Regions from separate parts of the Homo sapiens genome. Here region 1 is linked to region 2. A link means that fine-mapping ties the variant in region 2 to the expression of a gene that starts in the linked region. Tissue or cell type: whole blood. Region 2 holds a variant in brackets; the other region holds the start of a gene. All regions are shown on one strand. Distances are from middle to middle.

Region 1 (8,107 bases), 170 kb before region 2:
CATCCCTTCTACTCTGACTGGTAAAATAGCTCCATTACATCCCTGTCCGAGACACTCTGGGAAAGAGGCTGCCAATGAGAGGGAATACGCTATAGGCTTCTGCATCCCACAGGACCCACCCGGAGCTCTGCACAGGGAAAGTGCCCCAAAAATATGGACTGAAATGAATGTACCCAGGGCTGTGACATGGGCAGACCAATGATCCCAAAGCAAATATGGAAACTATTTCTTTTACTATATTTACACAAAAACCAGTTAGACATAGGTTATAAACTTGTTTGGGATTAAAGGATCAACTTTCAGAAGGGGACAAGCACATTAGGAGGAAAAAGAATGCCTCTTTCAAAACCTCCTACAATAGGGAGTGTCTCTAAGAGGGACAGAGATCTCTCTGAACCAATACTAAAGAGCCCCTGAGATCAACAGTGCAAACTGCTCCTGAGATGTGTGACCCAAGTTGAAGTTGACTGTATGGGTAAAACACTTAGGTCAAATTGCACCACTAGATGAGTTTCTTCATTTTAGGCAAAGTTCCAATAATGAAGTGACTGACTTCATGCGGCACACCTTAATTTCCCGGTTGGCAAAAGCACGTGTACAGAAACCCCATATACAGAAACCCCATCGGACTTGTTACCGCAACACGAACGTTTCTGCTTGCATTGTCATAGATGAAGGAAAAAAAAGGAGAACTTATAACACAGAACACCAGCTTCTACTGTGAGTAATATAGGATGAGGGCAAAAGTACTGGATGGATCACAGCCAAATTTCGATATGAAGAACCCACAAGTCGTTACAATTCAATCCGTTCAAACAACTCACATTTCTGGATTGCCCACTGGGCTAGACCCTGGGGGTGGTAAGAGAAGTGAGACCCAAGCACCTCACTGGGTACCCTGCTGCCAAGGAAAGGGCCACCAGGACCTAGTGACTGCAGCCCTAGAGTACAGGCTGGAGTCGAGGCCCAGGAGGCCAGAGGCATGTCAGAGGAAGCTTCTGGCACATCTCCTTTGATATTGCTTCCCTGGCAGGCAAGAGAAGACAACATTTTGGGGAGACTTGCCAACAGAACTCCAGGGGCATGAAAGACCCTGAAGGGGAGGCTACAGAGCCCAGGCTTTTGCATGTAAGCAGTGAGGAACGATGAGGGTTTGGCCCTGGCCGAGTGCAAGATGAGATCTTTGTTTAGGAAGGTCATTCTGTGGCTAGACCAGACGGAGGAGAAACCGAGGGCCAAGGGATCCATTAAGGGCAAAGCAGTAGCCCAGGTAAGAGATGGCGAGGCGAGGCCAGGCGCGGTGGCTCATGCCTGTAATCCCAGCACTTTGGGAGGCCGAGGTGGGCAGATCATGAGGTCAGGATTTCGAGACCAGCCTGACCAACATGGTGAAACCCCATCTTTACTAAATATACAAGAATTAGCCGGGCGTGGTGGCGGACACCTGTAATCCCAGCACTTTGGGAGGCCGAGGTGGGCAGATCATGAGGTCAGGATTTCGAGACCAGCCTGACCAACATGGTGAAACCCCATCTTTACTAAATATACAAGAATTAGCCGGGCGTGGTGGCGGACACCTGTAATCCCAGCTACTCAGGAGGCTGTGGCAGGAGAATCCCTTGAACCCGGGAGGCAGGGATTGCAGTGAGCCGAGATTGTGCCATTGCACTCCAGCTTGGCTGACAGAGTGAGACTCCATCTCAAAAAAATAAAAAATAAAAAAGATGGCGAGGCTTAAGAGGAGGTGGTGGGGCAGAGGCCTCGGGGACCTAAAGGGAGAGGAGTCAAGGGTGACCAGAAGATTCCTAGTTGAGTCACAAATCAATGAAGCCCAGAACTGCTGGAAAGTTCTAGACCTACGGATACTCCCAGTCACAGCAAGGCACCCTGAGATCAGCGCTTTAACATAAAATTGCAATGAGTGTCCTAAAATCCCAGGCAGCTGCAGATTCAGGAGATGATTCCAAGGCTGCCTTTGTACCCTAACAATCACAAGGCTCCTAGCAGCTTACTCTCCATAACGCTCCATGTAGCCCGAGAGCCCTGCATGCTGGAGCTCACCAGACATCCTTATAAAAATCCCAAGGGCCCTTTCCTTTGGATGCAATTCCTCAACTGTAGAATATTAAATAACTCGCCGGGTGTGGTGGCTCATGCCTGTAATCCCAGAACTTTGGGAGGCCGAGCGCTGGTAGATCACCTGAGGTCAGGAGTTCAAGACCAACCTGGGCAACATGATGAAACCCTGTCTCTACTAAAAATACAAAAATTAGCTGGGCGCAGTGGCATATGCCTGTAATCCCAGCTAGTAGGGAGGCTGAGGCAGGAGAATCACTTCAGCCCAAGAGGTGGAGGTTGCAGTGAGCTGAGATTGTGTCATTGCACTCCAGCCTGGGCAACAGAGCAAGACTCCATCTCAAAAAAAAAAAAAAGAAAAAAGAAAAAAAGAATACTATATAACCCCAGGTGTTGCCAAAGATGTTCACTCTGAATTGAACTCCAAAGTCTTCCAGAAGTCTGTTTATCACAAAACAGTCTGTCTCCAAAGTAGAAGCAAAGATAAAGAACTGTTTGTTGAATGGCTGACTGATGTCCACTGCAAGCTGAGCGCATTAACCAAATTTCACTTGGAAGACTATGCATGTGGCAAAATTAAATGCACCAATAGTACTAAATAAAGGTAGGCAGGAAGGCACCTAATGTACTACAATAGCTTGTATAACATCAGCCTCATCCAGTGATCAAGGTGACCAAATAAATTATCTTTAACACACACACACACACACACACAGAGTATAGACTCCAAAGTTTCCATTGTAAGACAAATTCTCTGACACTAGTGCACACTTGATGCCCTGGATCCTCAAGACATCACCGGGTGCCGGGTGCAGGGGCTCACGCCTATAATCCCAGCACTTTGGGAGCCCAAGGTGGGCGGATCACGAGGTCAGGAGTTCAAGATCAGCCTGGCCAACATAGTGAAACCCCGTCTCTACTAAAAATACAAAAAAAAATTAGCTGGATATGGTGCCAGGTGCCTGTAATCCCAGTTACTTGGGAGGTTGAGGCAAGGAGAGTCACTTGAACCTGGGAGGTGGAGGTTGCAGTGAGCCGAGATCGTGCCACTGCACTCCAGCCTGGGTGACAGCACGAGACTCCATCTCAAAAAAAAAAAAAAAAAAAAAAGACATCACTGGTTTTGGTGAGAAGAGACAGCACACATCTGCCTGGCACTGGGCTGCTCTTCTTTGGAGACAGAGGGTACAATTTATATCCTGCAGTTTTACTCAACAGGGGATACCACCAGCAGTTTGGCCAGGGTAATGCTGTATGGGACTGTCCCCTACACCATGTAAATTGGGCATTTACAATTCTTAACCACATCCTCCCAAATGCCAGTGAGTCATTGAGAAAACCTGAAACACCCCCATGCATTTTCAAACGCCCCCTAGGGTTGCCACACTATCTCCGGTGAAGAACCCTCGCAGTATTCACCGATGAAGTTCTTCTCTATAAATACTCTGTTTTCCTACCTGGTAAAAATAATGACTGCCCGTACTTGTCCATCTGATGTGGTATAAAGAAATAATCTTTTTTTTTTTTCAAAGAAGCAACACGTCAAATAAGCCTTCTATGTTCTAGAGTTCACTGCTGTTTTTCAGCAGAAACAAATCACTGAGCTAAATTACAAAGAGACCATAGCAATCTCCAGGGCTTTAAAAGGCTGATGCAGTATTTTTTCTTGGAGAATTTAAAAATAAAATGCAGTTCAAACTCTAGAACCTACAGTGAGGTTTTTCTCATAAATTCTGGAACATCGCAAGTTCTAGAAATCAAGCCCTGAAGAATGAGAGTACCAAGGCAAAGAACCCTCAGAACAAAGATTATGCAAAAGGATCACTGGTGATTTTCTATTTTTACATGAATTATAATGGCAGTGAAATAAAACTTGCCCTTCTGAACTCCACCCCCATACTTGTGCTACGATTATTAAAGTACGTTGCATTGTGAATATACTTTAATTCCAAGACTTTAAGTGCTAACATTTAGACAGAATGTACTAAGTTATATTAATCAAATTTTTAGTATTAAACCTTTCTCTACCATAAAGTAAATCCTTTAAAAAAAAAAAAAAGTCCAATCCTTCTCAACCCAAGAAATATGCCCAAGGGTATCTACAGGAATGGCTGCAGTAACTGGCAAACGCTGGCAGGAATTTTCCAATGACTGAAGTCAACAAATCCTCAGGAAACATGCTCAGACAGATGGCACTTAAAAAAAAGCAAAAACAAAAACAACAAAAAAAAACCTACTGCATTTAGATTTATAGGAAGATTTTTCACTTACTTCAAATTTCTGTATAATCCTCGTTCCTCTAAGTTAAAGGGGGAAAGAAAATCACACTGCAATTCCTTATTTTTCTAATTTAAAAAACAAAACAAAACACGTTATACCCTCGAATCCAGCTTTTGATGTCTTCGAGTATTTTCTTGGAGTCTCTTTCCAATGAATACTACTTTCAAATTCTAAGCACAAAGTAAAATCCCAAAAGTTAGCCCAAATAGCGTTGTACAAAATCAAAGATCACGATGTCAGCAAGCAACTGCATCTATCAGAAGCGATGATGATTCAGAACAGGATAAATTTAGAATGGTGTTTTCCAAAAGGCTTTTTGGATGTCAAATTCAGGAAACAGGTAAAGGCTACATCCCAAAAGTTCCTCTCCAAAAAGAACGCCAAAATATTAATAAAAAGAGTCTTCTTTTTGAAGTTTTTCGTCCCCTAGTGTCCTCGAGGCTGAACTTCCCCAACCTGGCCTCGGTGGAGCCATCCATTACTGGGCAAATCCACATGAAACCTGAGGACACTTCAGCCTGGGGAGGACGCAGTCAGAGCAGTGAAGCAACTTCACATGGGACGGGCCTTTTATGGCCTGAACTCGAGAGCCTTGATACCAGCTCATCTACCAGAAATAGCCCTGGAAATTCAGAGGAGCCCATCAGCTGTTGCAGCAGGCCTGGCCAGCAGCTACTTCAAATGCAATTAGGTTGTCCACACTGTCTTTCAGCTTGTTGTATAGAGAAATTAAAAATACAACAGCAGTCTACTGAATAAGCTACAACAATACAGATTTGGATGAGCAAACATTTCTCTAACTTAGTTTTTTTAGGCTAAAAAAAGAGCACACAATCGTTGACAAAGCTCAGACACTGAACACCCCAAAAGTAAGTAACAGACATATATACAATGAATGCCCGAAAAGTAACTAACAGACATACACATCTATGAAACAGCATGATATAATGGCACATGTCTCTACAAGTTTACAAATTCTGTAACCTCTGTGGATTTCTTCCCACTTCCAATAACTGTAGAAAATGAATCATCAGAAGAAAGCATTGTGCTGGAAGTACTTTCTCGAAAATGACACAAATATTTTCTCTTAAAGCCAAAGTCAGTCCTCTGAACTGGCAAGATCTATCTTCCTATGGCTCTCAGGTAGCTCACCTCACTGAAAAACCAGATGAACCTAACCTAATGAAAAAAATATTAACTATGAAGCACAACCACTTCTTAAATGGCCATATGCATTTTTTTAAACATTAAAAGGCCACTGACATGTTGAATACACTCAAACAAATATCACAACCCTGTTTACAAAATACTTACAATTGTAGGTCTCTGTCCCTGTCGGTACCAAGAACAGAGAGTCTTAATTGTCTGCACCAACTTCAGTATAAACCACAAACCCCATAAGACTTGGGCTGGAGTACAGCAAAAGCTGTGTGCTGCGCGGGGCCTCCCAGTGGTATGCCTCTGGGTGTCAGGGTTCTCAGACCACCAGCTGCTTCGGCCAGCACAGGAGGCCTCTCAAAGCAGGATCTAAATTCCTGTTACTAATTAACCCTACAGAACAATGCCTCTCCCTAAGAGGACAGTCCTGAGGCCAGGTGAAAAGATGACAGGTATAATAATTAAACATTGGCTTCATGACTGTTTTGTGCTAGGGGTATTTGTCCCAGTCAACTGTTTTTTTTTTTTTTTACCCATCTCAAGATAACAAACAAACAAAATTTCATAGCATGGCTTTTGCATCCTAATCTCAGTCCTGACCCTGATCTTCTTTTCCCTTGGACCATATTGGCTTTTTCCTCATTTTAAAGTTTATTTGATCTTGTTTTACGTATTTTTATAAGCTGTGGTAAGCCCCTCCCTAGAGAAAAGTAGGGCAAAAATAAATAAAAACTTACATGAAACAGTTCACTATTTGGGTCTTCTCTGTAAAGAGAAGATAGGAGGAGAAAATGAATCACTGTTACCACAATAGTGCTATTTCCTTCCTAAAAAAAGATTCACTCCCACAAAATAAACATCAGTCTTTTGTGTGCCTCTTAAGTTTTTGCACACTGCTTCCCCATAGCAACCAAACTGTCCTAGATTAATACACTGGAGTCTAATAGGGTAAATCTCCTTCGTCACTTCTTTTATATATCCTTTCTGTCTTTGATTATTTAAATCCCAGTTAATTCTTCCTGTGCAATCCATTTACTTTCCTAATTTTTTTGCTATCTGCCTGGCTTAGAAGACTCATCATACTCACTTCTTTCCAATGATGATAATCATGAATTGGAAGAAAAATCAACACACAAAAGATGTCAATTGTCCCCAAACTGATCTACAGATTAACAAAATTCCTATCAAAATCTTGCAAGGTTTTTTTGTTTTGTTTTGTTTTGTTTTGTTTTTTTGAGACATGGTCTTGCTCTGTTGTCCAGGCTGGAGTAGAGGTGTGCAATCATGGCTCACTGCAGCCTCAACCTCCCCAGGAGGCAGTCCTCCTGCCTCAGCCTCCTGAATATCTGGGGCTACAGATGTGCACCACCACACTGGGCTAATTTTTTAATTTCTTAGTTTTTGTAGAGATGGAGTCTCATTAGGTTGGCCAGGCTTGTCTTGAACTCCTGGGCTCCAGCTGTCCTCCCACTTCGGCCTTCTTAAGTGCTAGGATTACAGGTGTGAGCCACCCTGCCTGGCCTCACAGTGATTTTTGGCAGATATTCTAAAATTTATAGTAAAGGTACAGGCCCTAGAATAGCTAAAAACCATCTTGAAAAAGAAGAAAAAAGTTAGTCTGGGCGTGGTGGCTCATGCCTGTAATCCCAGCACTTTGGTAGGCCGAGGCGGGTGGATCACCTGAGGTCAGGAGTTCGAGACCAGCCTAATGAACATGGTGAAACACTGTCTCTATCAAAAATACAGAAAAATTAGCCAGGCGTGGTGGTGCACACCTGTAATCCCAGTTACTAGGGAGGCTAAGGCAGGAGCATCGCTTGAACCCAATCCTGGGAGGCAGAGGTTGCAGTGAGCCAAGATCATGCCACTGCACTCCAGCCTGGGCCACAGAGTGAGACTCCGTCTCAAAAGAAGAAAAAAGTTAGAGCAATGAATCTATCCCATATTAAGGCCTACTGGATAACTACAGTAATCAAGACAACACAGCATTGGCAAAAAGAGAGACACATAACATAGATCAGTGGAACAGACTGGAGAACCCAGAGACAGGCCCACATGAATATGCCAAACTGATTTCTGTGCCATTCAACAAACAGTGCTAGAGCAATTAGACACCCCTAGGCAAAAGCAATGAGCTTCTACCCAATCCTCATTGTGGTACATCCATACCATGGAATACTACTCAACAATAAAAAGGAACAAATTATTAGTACGTTCCACGACCTGGATAAGAATCCAGGGAATTAAATTATGCTGAGTGACAGAAAGCCAATCCCAAAATGTTAGATACTATACGAGTACACTTACATAGCATTTCCCAGATGACAACATTATAGAAATGGAGAAGAGATGGGAGTTGTTAGAGGTTAGGGATGGGGATGAGGTGGTTTAACAGGGCCACATGAGAGACCCCTGTTCTGGAACTCTTCTATTGGATTGACCACATCAGTGTCAATATCCTGGTTGTGATACTATTGTATAGCTTTGCAAGATGTTATCACTGGAGAAACTGGGTAAAAAGCCCTCATGATCACTTTGTACTATTTCTTACAACTACATCTGAATCTATAATTATCTCAAAATTAAAAGTTTA
Region 2 (8,107 bases):
AAGTCATCCATTGATGAAAAAAGATGACAGGCTCTCTAAGCCTTATAAATCATAGAATACTGGCCAAATAAATACAGCATAAAGTTGGTTAGGAAGGATGAGATTTGAAAATAGATGCAAGGTAGGTAAAGAATGTTCGTGCTAGACCCGAATAGCATACGTTTAAGTCTCTCGTTACAATGGAAGTGTTGAAAAGAATTAGAAATGAATTATATACAAATGGGCAGAAAAGACAAGAAGATACCTGCTCCAGGTAAGATAGGGCAGAAATTAGAAGCCTCGCTTACCAGGAGTGTAAAGTGTGATTTTAAGAACTCTCTGGAAGGCCCTGGCCTGATAGGAGATGAACAGCTCCCTGCGTGGGAAGTCTTTGCTTGTGTCACTAGATGATCCATCTCAACTATCCTAAGGGGTGACCCCATGGAAAATGGACCAAAGGGTAATTCCATCATATCTATCAAAATGTAAAATGCATACAGCCTTGGTGCAGCAATTCAACTCCAAGGAATTTGTCCAACTGATATACTTCCAAGTATGTACCAAATACATGTAAAAGGATGCATTGTAGTATTTTTTTATAATTACAAAATAATAGAAATAACCTAAATGTCCATATGTGGGGGACCTTTATTCCAGTTTCCCATAAGTTTCTCATTTCCATCTGAGGCCTTGTCAGCCTGGCCTTTGCTGGCCATATTTCTATCAGTATTTTGGTCACAACCATTTTAACTAGTCTCTAAGAAGTTCCAAACTTTCCCTCATCTTCCTGTCTTTTCCTGAGCCCTCCAAACTCTTCTAGCCTCTGATCATTATCCAGTTCCAAAGTTGCTTCGACATTTCCAGGTATCTTTCTAGCAACACCCCACTTCTTGGTACCAATTTTCTTTGTTAGGTCATTTTGCATTGCTAAAAAGAAATAACTGAAGCTGGGTAATTTGTGGAGAAAGGAGGTTTCATTGACTCATGGTTTTGCAGGCTGTGCTAGCATGGCACCAGCATTTGCTTAGCTTCTGGGGAGGCCCTCAGGAAGCTTACAATCATGGCAGAAGGTGAAACTGGAGCAGGAACATCACATGGCAAGAGCAGGAGCAAGAGGGAGGCAGAAGGTGCCACAGCATTTTAGATAACCAGATCTCATGAGAACTCACTCACTATCATGAGGACAGCACCAACACCAAGACATTCATGAGGCATCTTCCCCTAAAACCTCCCACTAGGCCCCACCTCCAAGCTGGGGATTACATTCTTTTTTTTTCTTTTTTTGAGATAGGTCTCATTCTGTCATCCATGCTGGAGTGCAATGGTGCGATCAAAGCTCACTGTAGCCTGGAAACTCTAGGCTCAAGCAATCCTCCCACCTTAGCCTCTTGAGTTACTGGGACTATAGGCATGCATCACCACACCTGGATAATTTTTTTTTTTTTTGTAGATATGGGGTTTTGCCATGTTGTCCAAGCTGGTCTCAAACTCCTGGGCTCAGGGGATCCTTCCACTCCTGCCTCCCAAAGTGCTAGGATTACAGGCATGAGCCACCACATGTGGCCAGGGATTACATTTCAACATGAGATTTGGAGGCAACAAACATCCAAACTATATCAAGTAAGAAAGGCAAGAAGGGCTAGGAGTCTAGCTCATGAAAAAGTAGGGTAATGGGTAGTAGGGACTGGCTCACTTGGAGTTTTGTGAGCCATAGTAGTTTGGATTTTATCCTCACTTCAGTGGGAGGCATTGGAGGATTTAAGCAGACGAGTGATATGATCTGATTTACATTTTCTGGAAGATCACTCTGGCCACTGTGGGGGGAGGATTTCAGTGAGATGAGTGTAATCAGAGCAGCTGGAAGGCTGCTGAGATACCCCAGGTGAAAGATGACAGCGGCTACAATGGTGAGATCCTGGGAAATGGTGAGAGGTGATGGGTGTGGGGTGTATTTTGGAGGTGGAGCCCATAGGACTTGCTGATGTGTGGGAATGAAGTAAAACAGAATCAAGAATGACTCCTTGGTGTTTGTCCTGAGCAACTGGGCATATGGGGGTACCATTTAGTTCAGAGGGGGAAGATTCTGGAAGGACCAAGTTTGGGGAAGAAAGGGGAGAAAAAGATCAAGTGTTCTGTCTGGATCCTGTTCAGTTTAAGACTCCAATTCAACACTCAAGTAGAAACTTCAAATATGTAGCTGAAAAGGTTATTGTTACAGATGAAAATTTGAGAAAGAATGATTTAGAATTAGATGGTGACATGGTTTGGTTGTGTCCCTACCCAAATCTCAACTTGAATTGTAGTGTATCTCTAAATTCTCACGTGTTTTAGTAGGGACCCAGGAGGAGCAAATTAAATTGTGGAGGCCGGTCTTTCCCATGCTATTCTCACGATAGTGAATAAGTCTCATGAGGTCTGAAGGGTTTATCAGGGCTTTCTGCTTTTGCTTCCTCATTTTCTCTTGCCACTGCCATGCAAGAAGTGCCTTTTGCCTCCCACCATGATTCTGAGGCCTCCCCAGCCAAGTGGAACTGTAAGTCCAATTAAACCTCTTTTTCTTCCCAGTCTCAGTTATGTCTTTATCAGCAGGGTGAAAACAGATTAATACAGATGGCTACACATAACAAACAATCCTAAATATCAGTGATTTACATAAGCCCAGGTTTTTCTTCTTTTCCACTTAATGAAAATCTGGAGCTAGGCAAGTAGGGGCTGATATGGGGTGGGGGGGGGGGTCCAGTATTGGCAAGGAAGCAGGCACTTGTCTTTTAGCTTTATCATCCTCAGCATGTGTCTGCCACCCTTAAGGTTACCCATGGTCCAGTAAGTAGGGACTATGGAGCTTTTATCATTAATTCCACATCCCAGGTAGTAGGAAGACTGTGGCAAGGATCAAAGCTGCAGCTGCAGGTCCCTTTGAAGAGCCTTCTTTTTTTTTCTTTTTTTTTTTTGAAGACAGGGTTTTCCTCTGTTGCCCAGGCTGGAGTGCAGTGTTGTGAACACAGCTCACTGCAGCCTTGACCTCATGGGCTCAAGTGATCCTGCTGCCTCAGCCCCCTAAGTAGCCAAGACTACAGGTGCACACCACCACACCTGGCTAATTCTTGTATTTTTTGTAGAGATGAGGTTTTGCTATGTTGCCCAGGCTGGTCTCGAACTCCTGAGCTCAAGAGATTTGCCTGCCTTGGCCTCTCAAAGTGCAGGGCTTACAGGTGTGAGTGAGGAGCCTTCTTTACATGCTGTCTGACATGTCATTGTTCAGAACTTAATTACACGGTTGCAAGGGAATGTGGTAAGTGTAGCCTTTTCATAGGGTGCCTTGCAGCCCTTAATAACATCTGTCATTAGATTTCTAAATAATGGGTACAGTCTTGGCTATAAGAGTCATCAGTGCAAACAGTGTTTACAGCCATGGCATTGGACGATGACGTGATCGGCAGAGGAAGGGAAACCAATCACAGAGGTGCTCATCCACAGCTGTAACGTGCCTCTGGCTCACAGAAACATGGAGCACCAGAGCTTGGCTTGGCTTGTATTGGTCATTCTTTGTCTTATTCCTGGGCCATGCATTTTTATAGCACGTGTTTGTCCTTTTCCTTTTGACCTACTTTACCCTTATACAACCTAGTTGAGTTTTATGCACTCTTTCAAGAAGCCCTTCTAGAACACGACTGTGTATAAATAAATAACAAACAAAGCTTTGATCAGTCTTCCTCTGTCAGAATGGGGAAAGAAGGCGAAAGAAGTAGAAAAAGAGGAAGTAGAGGAAGGGAAAGGGGCAGGAAATGAGTGGAAAGCAAACTGAGTGATTGAGGAGATTTTTGTTGGGGGTCGGGGAGATGCCTCAGAGCTTGTGTATTTACATGAGTCATCTGGACACGCTGAAACCCAG[T/G]TTCAACTTGAAGGGTTCCTCTCCAACCAACTGCTTCCTGGGGTCTGTCTGGAGAGTTACCAGAAGGTAATCTTCAACTAGAAGTGATTATTAGGTGGGCATAGGCAGCTGTTGTTGGCAAAGGAAATGCATTTCTTTTTGCTTACCTGTGACCAGTGGTTTGAGTCTCATGGAAGAAGCTCTCAATGATAGAAACTGAAGTCAGTGCCACATATGTAATTATATAAAGAACTTTGTGATTGCAGCTCAGGAAATGGTCTGGGTTTCAGACGTCCTCTGTCCTCACTGATGATGGCTGAAACTGAGGGTTTCAAAGTCTCTGGTTGGTGCCAGAGGGTACAGTTGGGTACAGAAAAGTGAGGAAATACTCTGGAGTCAAATAAAAATGCAAGAAGCAGAGAGCTTTTGAGGATATACAATGTGACGCTTAATGTTTGTCTTCCTTAAATGTCCTCAGTGCCACCATGACTAAGTTCTGGAAACAGAGAATCCTGTTTTGATTCTGTGACTCAGAGGGCATAATATGTTGGCTCTTTGCCCTGGGGCCCAGGGTATCCAGTGAAGCAAAAACAACTAGGCTACAGCTGCACTTCCCTGTGCTGCATGCTGCAGGGGCTGGAACCAGAAAGGCCACAGGGAATCTGAGAAAATTCACTTCTCTTAAGCTTCTCACTATTTCTCCAAAGCAAAGACAGGAGGGCTGCTGCCAGGACTGTGAGAGTTTGTACAGTATTGTGGTGCAATTGCAAAAGGCGTGCTTTCTCCTGGCAGGTGCAGCCCCCACACAGGGCTCAGCATGTGGTTAGTGGAGAACAGGCTGGATTTAGGTCCCCATCCTCCCTCTCAGCAGAGCATCCCTGCAGAGAGAAAAACCCACACACCCACCCACCTGTGGTAGCGCTGGCTGCTACCTACTTCACACATCCTGCCTGATAAGGTTTGGCTGCGTCCTCACCCAAATCTCACCTTGAATTGTAACTTCCATAATTCCCAAGTGTTGTGGGAGGGACCCAGTGGGAGATAATTGAATATGGGGGCAGTTTCCCCCATACTGTTCTTGTGGTAGTGAGTAAGTCTCTTGAGATCTGATTTTTATAAGAGGTTTCCCCTTTTGCTTGGGTCTCATTTTCTCCCTTGTCTGCCACCATGTAAGATGTGCCTTTCACCTTCTGCCATGATTGTGAGGCCTCCCCAGCCATGTGGGACTGTGAGTCAATTAAACCTCTTTTTCTTTATAAATTACCCACTCTCAGATATGTCTTTATCAACAGCGTGAAAACGGACTAATACACTGCCTGTCACCACTGGGGCTGTCCCAATGCTTCATGCCCTTGGAGTGGTGGCCTCTGAAGCAGAGTTTAGTGTGTAGCATGTGTCTGAGGCGTGTGCTTGAGATCAACTCCCGTGGCAGGGAGACAGAAGGCAGGAGAGTGCGAGGGAGAAGTCAAACTGTGATGAAATCTGATGATGGCCTTGGGCAGCCCTGTGGGGAGCCCTGGAGCTAGAATGTTCTCCAGTGTTGGACCAAGCTGGTCAGGCCTGTATCCCTCTGTGGTTTAGGGTAAAGCCGCTCTTCAGCTAAGATGAGTCCTGAGTTGGGGCAGCTGACAGCTGACACCCAGCCACCAGCATGCCCAGTGGTGGGGGCAACAAGTCTGTCCATGAAGGGAGATATAGAAGGCATGTCACAGTGTCTGCCACACCACCCCAAGGCTGCCCTTTAATAACCTAGTTTTCTGCTTCAAGGCTTCCCTTGATATTAAATTTCATCAGAGTTCTACAGCATGCCAAGATTTGAGGGGCAGGATAAAAAAATCACCCTACTGTCAATGCCATAGGCATTGCCTAACCATGATAATCAGAGAAAGCCGCTTTTACCCTAGTGTCTCTCAATTTTGACCCCAAATTAAGCATAATGCCAAAAGAAACATTTTGGGACTCTCTGAAAGGTCTAGGAAGGGAAGAAGCTTGCTGGGTGCATTCTGCAGGGACATCAGTTTACTGTCCACACTTTTTGTGGTCCATATCTTCTCCGAGGCCCTCATGCTGAGAAAATCTCACAGGAATCCCATATTCAGCCTCAGGGGAGGAAGGTCCGTGCGAAACACAAGAAGGAAGATGATTGGGGGCCGTGGAAGAGAGAGGCAATGTCACCTTATCCCAGGAGACCTCCAGCAGGTCCCTGGAAACAGGGGCAGGGGACAGGGGTGAGGCAGGGTGGGGAGCCCTAGATCCCAGGCCAGACCACTCGGTCAACCCCTGGCCTTGCTGCCCATGAGGTCTGCAGCTGTGGGAAAGTTCCTTAATTGTTCCATGCCTCAGTTTCCCCATCTGAGAAATTAGGATTGATAGTACCAACCTCAGAGGGCTCCTGCCAGGATGAACTCACACGAATCCCTTGAAGAGGGCCTGACCCGCACTGCACTCAGGAGCTGTGGCTACAAGAATGGGAGCAAGAAGGAAGGATCCCCTGAGTCTGGGGGTTGAGACAAGGCCAGTTCCTTCCCCACGGAGCCAACTTCATTGGAAGAGAGCTGCTCATGGGTTCAGCCTCAAACAGAAACATTCTGGGAAGCTCTCAGATGGTTCTATGTAATTGTTTAGCCAATTAGAAGTGATTCAGAAGGCAAATTTTGCTCTAATAAACAGAGCAATTTGTGAAGGGTTTTTGGTTCTGGAGAAAAAACTCTAAAACATCAATATTGTTACTAATGCTACAGAGAAACAATGACCCATACTCTGAATCAACACACTAATTTGTAAACCTCACAGACTCAGCCTTGAAATTCCTGTTTTATTGAATTGCCCTCTGAAACAAAGGTTATTTTTAAGCAACGTTTAGTAAACCAATTTAAGTGGGAATAGAACTCCTGAAATGTCAGAGGTGGGTCACTCCTGCAGTACAAAGATAGCCTAGCTTAATAGTTAACGCTGTTCACCAGAATCCAACTACCTGGGTTCTGGTCCTAGCTCTGCCTCACACCAGCTGTGTGATCTTGGGCAAGTTACTTAACCTCTCCGAGCCTCTGTTTGTCTCAAATATGAAATGGAGATGATAATACTAGAACTTTACACATGACTTATGGTGAGACTGGAAGCAGACAATGTAGGTAAAGTCACAGCAAACCCTCATTAATTAGTACTATATAGTGATACACAGAATGCAGAGTAAAATATAAGGTATGATAAAGAAAGCATGTGCACACACACACACACACAGTGTTCACTGCATTTGCACCCTATAGTAGAAACTATTAGGTAGGCTATGCTTCACTTACAAAACCCTCCAAATCTCAGTGGCTTATGTGAGACAGAGACAGAGAGAGAGAGAGAGAGAGAGAGAGAAAGGAGAAGAGTTATAGAGAGAGAGAAAGAGAAAGAAAGAGAGAGAGAGGAAGAAAGAGAGAGGAGGAGAGAGAAAAGAGAAGAGGTAGAAGGGAGGAGAGATAAAGAGATAAAGATAGAGAGAAGAGAGAGAGAGAAAGGAGAAGAGAGAAAAGAGATGGAGAGAGAGAAAGGAGAAGAGATAGAGACAGATAGAGAATGAGAGAGAGAGGGAGAGAGAGATTTCTCCTTCATAAACCATGTTGAGCACACATTGCTGGGTGGACACCGGTTACCTTCTCCAGCCACAGTTGCAGAGAGGAAAAAGGAGGTGGAAAAACACATGGCTTCTGTTCATAGTGCACCAGCCAGAACAAGTCATATGGTCATGTCAAACTTCAGGGAAGTGGGGATATGAAATTCACCCTCTGCCTAGAAGTATGGGAATCAGACATTGGACAGTAACAATGAGAAGCACACACCCAGAAACACAGATCAACCTCTCTGGAATTTCCTCAGGCAATTTTTGCGTCTCAGCACATAAGTGAGAAGTGAGTCTCCCTCTCAGACAAAGGACACACCCTCTACTAATGACCTCTTAGGGCCATCCCTATTTTCTGTCCTGCCTGTAATCTGGGTGGTTTTGGAAGATTTTTTTTTAAGTTACTGATGACTATACAGTAATACTGTTCAATAAGCAGTATGTTTAGTGATATTCTTGAATTCTAATTTTTTGCTGTAATTTTGACCGCAATGAGGTCCTCACCATTGGAATTCATAGAAGAAATGCTGAGGAGCTGATCAACAATTTCTAATGTAACATTTAAAGCAAAGGAAAAGCTAGGCACTCTAGTAACCAGGGCTCGCTAATTTTTACCTTTTAAGATTCATCTTAAATCCCCTCAATTTTTA

Evidence for each region. PIP is the estimated chance that this variant, and not a neighbour inherited with it, causes the effect.
Region 1: SVIL starts here. The variant in region 2 is fine-mapped to the expression of SVIL in whole blood (INTERVAL, PIP 0.94).

The regions. Positions count from the first base shown.
Region 1 is chr10:29,630,073-29,638,179 of GRCh38, forward strand. SVIL (supervillin) reads right to left here and starts at 4,899. Exons shown (of 38, transcript NM_021738.3): 1 at 4,348-4,899. RefSeq lists a silencer at 4,708-5,002.
Region 2 is chr10:29,799,964-29,808,070 of GRCh38, forward strand. No RefSeq gene overlaps it. Among named protein-coding and RNA genes, the nearest start is that of SVIL, 170 kb to the left of the region's middle. The variant T/G (reference allele first, on the strand shown) is at 3,872.